3 separate regions of the Homo sapiens genome follow, and all the other regions are linked to region 2. The links come from fine-mapping of genetic effects on gene expression. A gene starts in region 2. Each other region holds a variant in brackets. All regions are shown on one strand. Distances are between the middles of the regions.

The links. PIP is the estimated chance that this variant, and not a neighbour inherited with it, causes the effect.
Region 1: its variant is fine-mapped to the expression of PPP1R3G in whole blood (TOPMed, PIP above 0.99).
Region 3: its variant is fine-mapped to the expression of PPP1R3G in tibial artery (GTEx, PIP above 0.99).

The regions. Positions count from the first base shown.
Region 1 is chr6:5,153,154-5,155,906 of GRCh38, forward strand. All of the region lies in intron 2 of LYRM4 (LYR motif containing 4), which reads right to left. All of the region lies in intron 3 of LYRM4-AS1 (LYRM4 antisense RNA 1), which reads left to right. Among named protein-coding and RNA genes, the nearest start is that of MIR3691, 6.2 kb to the left of the region's middle. The variant C/A (reference allele first, on the strand shown) is at 1,548.
Region 2 is chr6:5,083,640-5,086,392 of GRCh38, forward strand. It overlaps PPP1R3G (protein phosphatase 1 regulatory subunit 3G), which reads left to right and starts at 1,702. Exons shown (of 1, transcript NM_001145115.3): 1 at 1,702-2,753. The coding sequence starts at 1,847. All of the region lies in intron 3 of LYRM4-AS1 (LYRM4 antisense RNA 1), which reads left to right. It also overlaps a transcript of LYRM4 not described here. RefSeq lists silencers at 684-753, 784-1,063, 1,474-1,653, 1,904-2,003, 2,144-2,193 and 1 more and an enhancer at 1,984-2,673.
Region 3 is chr6:5,056,992-5,059,744 of GRCh38, forward strand. All of the region lies in intron 2 of LYRM4-AS1 (LYRM4 antisense RNA 1), which reads left to right. It also overlaps a transcript of LYRM4 not described here. Among named protein-coding and RNA genes, the nearest start is that of PPP1R3G, 27 kb to the right of the region's middle. RefSeq lists enhancers at 363-412, 473-532. The variant C/T (reference allele first, on the strand shown) is at 1,569.

The DNA of each region.
Region 1 (2,753 bases), 70 kb after region 2:
GTCGTGTGATCTCAGCTCTGCCTCGCCTCCTGGGTTCCAGCAATTCTCCTGCCTCAGCCTCCTGAGTAGCTGGGATTACAGGTGTGCACCAACACGCCTGGCTAATTTTTATATTTTAGGAGAGATGGTGTTTTGCCATGGTGGCCAGGTTGCTGTCAAACTCCTGACCTCAAGTGACCCGCCCACCTCAGCCTCCAAAAGTGCTGGGATTACAAGTGTGAACCACCACACCTGGCGCCCTTGCTAATCTTAAACAAAACTAAGACACCAGGTCATAACACAGCAAGTCTCTTGTGCCTGCCCAGCTGGGCAGAGAGAAGCTGGACATCTGGAAACTAACTTGATGAAGTGCTGCTGTTCGGTGTGACCGGGGGCAACTCACAGAACCTTCCAGAGCCTCAGTTTCCTCTTTTGTGAAAGAGGCAATCACCAGTACCTCCTGACGAGTAAAGCCATGTGAAATACACACGGACACTCTTGGAAAACCTGTGGTTTTCAACAGTGATGCTCAACAAAATCACCTCTGTAAGTCTTCAAAAATACATCCTGATGTGTAGTCAGAACTGGCAACCACTGTTGTACGGTGCTCGACACATAAAGTAATCACTGATATATTGAGGGCTGTTCATGAACACTCAAATGAAATGACCATATATGCTGTGAATACAGACAGATACAATGAAAGACTCTAATAATTTTAAAACAGCAAACAGAGAGCCCGTCCCTTAGAAGTTGAACATCCCAGATAAAAATGCTAAATTGCAGCAATAAACCCTGAAACGCCCTAAACAGGGATATATGGAATGCTCTGATTGTAAATTGCTGGCTCTTCCCTACATCTAGTAAAGAAAATTACCTGCTAAATGTTATCATAAAAGCTACGGAAACATTTTTTTACCTAAGTTATAGAGTCAACCAAGAAAAAAACCCTATAAATTAGATATTCTAAATCTTTAAGCCACTAATTTTAATCAATATCAGTCTGGAGGTTTTAAATGACTTTCTCCTGAAACTCCCCACCCCATCAAGTAATTATCAGAAACATTGATTTCATTCCATATATTCAATCTTACAAGTTCATAAAATATTAGCCTATTAAGTTAACATAAAAATGTAATGCAGTAGAATGAAACAGTAGAAGGAACTCCATATAACACCTGCAAACTGTGTCTATAGGAGTCTGATTTTTAATATTTCACTGACCACCCCTATTCCCCCATCTCCAGCTCCCAAGCCCCAGGGTGGGTGAGAAAGGAGGTTGCAAAGGGCATCACGTGCTGGACAGAGAGTGGCATGCAGTATCTACGATCACACAGGACACAGATGGAAACATCAGAAGACAACCCAACACCTCATACAGATTAAAAAGAAAGGCGGATTCGGCCGGGCGCGGTGGCTCAAGCCTGTAATCCCAGGACTTTGGGAGGCCAAGGTGGGCAGATCATGAGGTCAGGAGATCGAGACCATCCTGACGAACACTGTGAAACCCTGTCTGTACTAAAAACACACAAAAGAATTAGCCGGGCGTGGTGTCACGCGCCTGTAGT[C/A]CCAGCTACTCGGGAGGCTGAGGCAGGAGAATGGCGTGAACCCGGGAGGCGGAGCTTGCAGTGAGCCGGGATCGCGCCACTGCACTCCAGCCTGGGCGACAGAGCGAGACTCCGTCTCAAAAAATAAATGAATAAATAAAAATAAAAAAGAAAGGCGGATTCACAAAGGTGCAGTAACTTCACCCAAATTACACAGTGTCAGAGGGGGGCATCAGGGTTCAGGTCTCCTCACCCCAGGCCTGGGACTTTTAATAAACAATGCCGTTCTAACAGGATGGTGGATGGGATGCATAGACGGAGCAAGAGTGACACAGAAGCACTGCTTCTTTTCTGTACAGAATTACTGAGTCCCCTACCCTGCCTACTGTGAGACGGATCTTTTATTATTATTATTTTTTTGAGATAGAGTCTTGCTCTGTTGCCCAGGTTGGAGTGCAGTGGTGTGATCTTGGCTCACTGCAAACTCTGTCTCCCGGGTTCAAGCAATTCTACTGCTTCAGCCTCCTGAGTAGCTGGGATTACAGGCATGCGCCACCGCCTGGATAATTTTTGCATTTTTAGTAGAGACGGGGGTTTCACCATGTTGGCCAGGCTGGTCTTGAACTCCTGGCCTCAAGTGATCTGCCTGCCTTGGCCTCCCATTGTGGTGGGATTACAGGTGTGAGCCTCTGAGCCCGGCTGAGATGGATTACTAATAAATACTACTACAGAAACAGGACAGTTTTCAGAGTCCGTCTTTACTAGGCTACTAGGCAATTCCTCAGCCACTGAGATCATATACACAGAAGGAAATTACTGATGCTGGTACTTTCCATCATTTTTCAGTAACTGGGTTTCACTGGCTGTGGGTGTTGGAAAGGCTGGGTAGTCATGCCAACATTTATATATCTTTTAAGGATGATACGTTGCTGAACCAGGATGTCAGGGAACCAGCCTACCAGAAAACCAGGATTCTCACACTGGTCCTGCCATTATTCTGTTGTAAAGTGTTGGGCCTGTTTTTCTTGGCAGCAAAACGTATGGATAGCCTCTCCCAGCTACTTTGAAGGCTCACATGTTAATGTACGGAGGAGCACTTAGGAAAGTTTAAGGCATTAAGCAAAGCAAAGGAAAAAGCAAAGGTCTCTGGTATGTTACACCTCTCGGAATTGTGTATGTTCCAAAGTATTATACATGTTCCCTGTGAAATACACATTAGTTGTCTCC
Region 2 (2,753 bases):
GTGATTCCTATTTCATGGACAGGACATCCTGTAGGTGCTCAGTCAATCAATGTAAGCTCTTAACACGCTCCTCACCCACCATCTCTTTTGCCTGCCCTCTGCCAACATGGCTAAAACCCTGGCCCCTTTCAGTTCTGCCAAACCATGACATGTTTTAGTTATGAAGCCCCAATTAATTACGTTTCTTAATTAGTGGTTCTGTTTCTAGAATCCCCAACTTTCTATATAAGTAACTGAATACACATCCACATAGGTTTAAATACGGTCCCCAGAGCCCAGCATCAGCATCCCCTTGTTAGAAATACTTCCAGGCCCCAGCCCAAGCCCACTGAGTCACAAACGCTAGGGAGCTGGGAGCAGTGGGGGGCGCCTGTAATCCCAGCTACCTTAGAGGCTGAGGCGGGAGGACTGCTTGAGGCCGGGAATTTGAGACCAACCTGGGCAGCATAGCAAGACCCCTATCTCGAAAAAGTTAGAAAGAAGGAAACTCTGGGAGTGGGGCCCTGTGATGTGACAACGGGCCCCCGAGTGATGTCCGTGCATGCTGAAGTAGAATCACTGACTTAGATGGCCCTCAGGGTGGCCTTAAAACCAAAACAAGAAAAACACCACTTTTAGACGTTCCCCCAATCCCTAGGTACCACGACGCGCTTCCCCACCCCTCCCCGGCCTCAGGTTCGGGCCTTGGCCCCTGGCAAGGCCGGAGCAGCAGGGCGGTGACAGCGCAGTCCGGCGCGGGCCACGCCCCCACTCCCGGTGGGCGGGGAGGGTGCTTGGGGCGCTGGCGTCCGGTTGCGGTGGGAGGTGGTGCGTGCCGCGTGGGCGCCGGCCCCACGGGGCCCCCTCTCCGCCCTCCCTGCGGGATCCCGGGGCGCGGACTCGCGGGCGCGTCGGGCGGGACAGGGGGAGGGGCGGGACGTGCTCCCGGGCCTGGCGCGAATGGCCTCCGGCCGCTCTCGGCTGCGGGCCATGGCCGCTCCCCGGCGCGTCCCCACACGGTCCCCGCCCCAGTCTGGCCGCAGCCCACCCCGCGCCGCCACTGGGCAGATGGGGGCGGCGGCTCCTGCCTCCCGGCTTTCGGAAGAGCAGAGCGGAGCGCGCCTGACCGAGTCAGGCTTCCGAGTGGGATTGGAACCCGGGGCGCCCTGAAGTTTGGGGAAAGCAGGAGCAGAAGGGAAGGGATGCGCTCCCCGCTCTCCGGCGGCGCGGAATGGGCCTCCTTCCAGCCTCTGCGTAGGCAAGATTTCCCCAGTTGCGCGCTGCACCGGGGACTCCCCAGCCCGTGAGGCAGCCAAGAGGAGAGCGCTCAGTGACCCTCTGGGGGCAGAGCCGTCAGGCCAAGTTCATGGGCAGGAAGACTTTGTGCACGTGGGGGTCTCTGAAGGTTGAGCGCGAGCTCTGCACCCCCACTTCGAGGCACTCAAGAAGCGGAACAGACGCGAGCCCCGCCGGGGGTGCGGGTGAGGGCTGCAGGGAGCCCGCGAACGACAGAAAGTCGCCCCCCGCATTCCACCGGAGCACTCGGGAACACGGCTTCCAGGTGTCCCAGCGGCCGCGCCTCCCCGCCCCCGGCCCTCCCCCGTCGCGGGCAGGTTCAACCGGGAGGCGGCGTGGCCCCGGAGCCGGCCCCAGGCCCGCATCCTCCTCCCACTTCGCCCTGGGCAGCCGCAGCTAAAAGCCGGAGGCTCCAAAGTGGAACTACGTTGTCTTGTCGAGCCTGGGGCGACTCGCCTCGGGGAGGGCGAGCCTGAACTGCAGCCCTGCGCTCCTTCCACGGCCCGAGGAGTTAGTTAAGTCTCCAGAGGGGCCCGGTTCGGCCCGAGCAAGTCCAGGGGCGAACGGCGTCATGGAGCCCATAGGGGCGCGGCTAAGTTTGGAGGCGCCGGGACCAGCGCCCTTCCGAGAGGCCCCGCCGGCCGAGGAGCTGCCCGCCCCGGTGGTCCCCTGTGTGCAGGGTGGCGGCGACGGCGGTGGCGCTTCGGAGACCCCGAGTCCTGACGCTCAGCTAGGGGATAGGCCCCTGTCCCCGAAGGAAGAGGCCGCCCCCCAGGAGCAGGAGGAGCTGCTGGAATGCCGCCGCCGCTGCCGCGCGCGCTCCTTTTCCTTGCCCGCCGACCCCATCTTGCAGGCGGCCAAGTTCCTGCAGCAGCAGCAGCAACAGGCGGTGGCACTGGGCGGCGAGGGGGCGGAGGACGCACAGCTCGGCCCGGGCGGCTGCTGCGCCAAGTGCAAGAAGCGGGTGCAGTTCGCGGACACGCTGGGGCTAAGCCTGGCCAGCGTGAAGCACTTCAGCGAGGCGGAGGAGCCGCAGGTGCCGCCCGCCGTGCTCTCGCGCCTCCGAAGCTTCCCTATGCGTGCCGAGGACCTGGAGCAGCTCGGGGGGCTGCTGGCCGCGGCGGCAGTGGCCGCGCCCCTTTCAGCGCCGCCTTCCCGGCTCCGGCCGCTCTTCCAGCTCCCGGGGCCGAGCGCCGCGGCCGAGCGTCTGCAGCGGCAGCGCGTGTGCCTGGAGCGCGTGCAGTGCTCGACGGCCTCGGGCGCTGAGGTGAAGGGCTCCGGCCGGGTGCTCAGCTGCCCTGGGCCCAGGGCCGTGACCGTGCGCTACACCTTTACCGAGTGGCGCTCCTTCCTGGACGTGCCGGCTGAGCTGCAGCCCGAGCCGCTGGAGCCACAGCAGCCAGAGGCACCGTCTGGGGCCTCCGAGCCAGGGTCCGGGGATGCCAAGAAAGAGCCAGGCGCCGAGTGCTTCCACTTCT
Region 3 (2,753 bases), 27 kb before region 2:
AAAGACATGTACTCAAGAGTTGAGAGTTAATAAAATTAATTATTTTTATTGGTTTATCTAGGATATTTTTAAGTGATACGGGTAGGGCTTTATCCATCATTGCTTTTGCGGTATCAGTGCAAGTGTCCACAAAGTTAAAAAGGCAAATCATGTCTTAGCATTGTTATGAAAATAGTTTCAACCTCTCAACCCAACCCCCCTTTCCCCAAAGGCTCTAGGAGACCTGGGGGCCCACGAGCCACACCCTGAGGTCTGCTCTCCTAGCCTGCTGTCATTGCTAAAGCCTGCACGGGCTTCGACCTGAAGGGGGAGCTCAAGGCCTTCCCAATCTTCTTCCTTCCCTCTCCTCCCTGCCCACCCTTTCCCTCAACTTTGGGACAAAAGAGACCAGGACGGAAGACACCAAGGGACTCTAGCTTTGGAGTTCAAACTTCCCTCATTCCGGCTGGGCGTGGTGGCCCACGCCTGTAATCCCAGCACTTTAGAAGGCCAAGGCAGGCAGATTACTTGAGGTCAGGAGTTCGAGACCAGCCTGGCCAAGATGGTGAAACCCCCATCTCTACTAAAAATTCAAAAAATTAGCCAGGTATGATGGCGCCTGTAATCCCAGCTACTCGGGAGGCTGAGGCAGGGGAATCGCTTGAACCTGGGAGGCGGAGGTTGTAGTGACCCGAGATCGCACCACAGCACTCTAGCCTGGGCGACAGAGCGAGACTCCATCTAAAAAAAAAAAGAAAAAAAAAAACTTCCCTCATTCCTAGTGAAACGCTCACTTTTTTTTTTCTTAAAGAGACAGGGTCTCTCTCTGTCACCCAGGCGGAGTGCAGTGGTGCAATCATAGCTCACTGCAGCCTCGAACTCCTGGGCTCAAGCAATCCTCCCACCTCAGCCTCCTGAGTAGCTGGGTGCACCACCACATGTCCAGCTAATTCTTATTTTTTGTAGAGATGGGGTCACTTTATGTTGCCCAGGCTGGTCTCGAAATTCCAGACTCAAACAGTCCTCCTGCCTCGGCCTCCCAAAGTGCTGGAATTACAGGCATGAGCCACCACACCCTGCCTCTATTCAGTTATTTATATGGCCCATTCCTCCACATTAGGTTCCAAATACAACAACATCTCCTTCATTCCATTTTCCCGAGACCCAGTGTCTCCTTCTTCGGGTTCCACCTTATGAAGAGTCTACACGGGGCTCTCTGTGACTGGAGAGAGGAGAGGACCTGAGTTCCATGAAACCATGGGAGCCACTGCTTCTTTTTGTCACATGGGGTCATTAATGAAACCAAGCCTTGCACAGTGTGACAGCAGATGTCTGTTCAGAGCTGCTGGCCTTCCCTGAGTGCTGCCTGCTTTCTCAACGGCCTGTCCCAAGCCTGCTTTCTCATGTCCGTGGGAACAGGTGTTCTAAGGTCCGGGGCTTAACATCCACTTCCACACCAGCCATCGTTCTCCAAACCACAGCCACAGGGCCACAGAGAGTTGACCTGGGGGAGCTTCTGCACCCGCCACACAGTGGTTCCCCGCTTCAGCCTGGATTCTCTCTGTCCTCCTTTTCTGCCTCTGAGCCTC[C/T]GCCAGCTCCATGTGACTCAGCTTCAGGCATCCCTCGGGGGGAACCCATGGGCACCCAGTGTCCAACCTACCCCCTCCTCAGAGGACTCTTGGCTGTGTCTGCCTCCCCTTGCTATGTTTTGCCTTCTGCCTTCTTTATTCCCCTGTTATTTTTCCTGTTTTAGCCATGCTTGATTCGGTTTTACAGCCCTGTGTCTCCCCACTATTTTTATATATATATAATGCTTGAATGCTTGCTGCTTTGTTTTCCATTTTCTCTTTCTAGTTTAATGTTCTTTATATTCCTTTAAGGTAAAAATGTCTTGCTTCCAACTTGTTTTCCCTGATTTATCATTAACTGCTTTTAATTGAAAAAGTAATAAAAGCACATGACGAAAATGGAAAGAGATGAAAAGCATACACAATGAAAAGCAAGCAAGACCTCTGCTCTCCTAATCTCTGTCTCCAGAGGTGACACTGCTACTGGCTTCTTGTGTTTCCTTTTAGAAGTCCTCTATATGGCCAGGCATGGTGGCTCATGTCTGTAATCCTAGCACTTTGGGAGGCTGAGGCCGGAGGATCCCTTGAGCCCCGGAGTTCAAGACTAGCATGGGCAATATTGAGAGACCCAGTCTGTACAGAAAATTAAAAAATTAACCAGGTGTGGTGGCACACACATGTAGTCTTAGCTACCCGGGAGGCTGAGGTGGGAGGATCCCTTGAGGCCAGAAGTTCAAAGCCACAGTGAGCTATGACGGTGGCACAGCATTCCGGCCCGTGCAACAGAGCAGCGCCCTGTCTCAAAAAAAAAAAAAAAAAAAAGTCCTCTGTGTACATAAGAAGCACACTCCTCCCCTTTTATTGCACTAATAAAAACTTGGTATTCACACAGTTCTGGGCCTCTCTGATTTTTTCTTAACTCTGTATCTTGGGGATTGTTTCATATCCGCCCAAGAACAGCTACTCGACTCCCTTCCCTGAGTTTCCATTAACTGAATTCTTGTCGCAGGAAGAGGACTGTGGTCTGTCAACACACCTGGACATGCCTGCTCTGCGGCCCCATCAGACTTTGTCCCCAGGCCATTGTATGCTCTTCAAGTTCATTGAATCATCCTAAAAATCCTTTCCTACCACCTAACATCATCCACATTTCCTCATCTCCCTTTCCCTAAAAAGAAGGGTATTTAACCATCTGTACCCCATTGC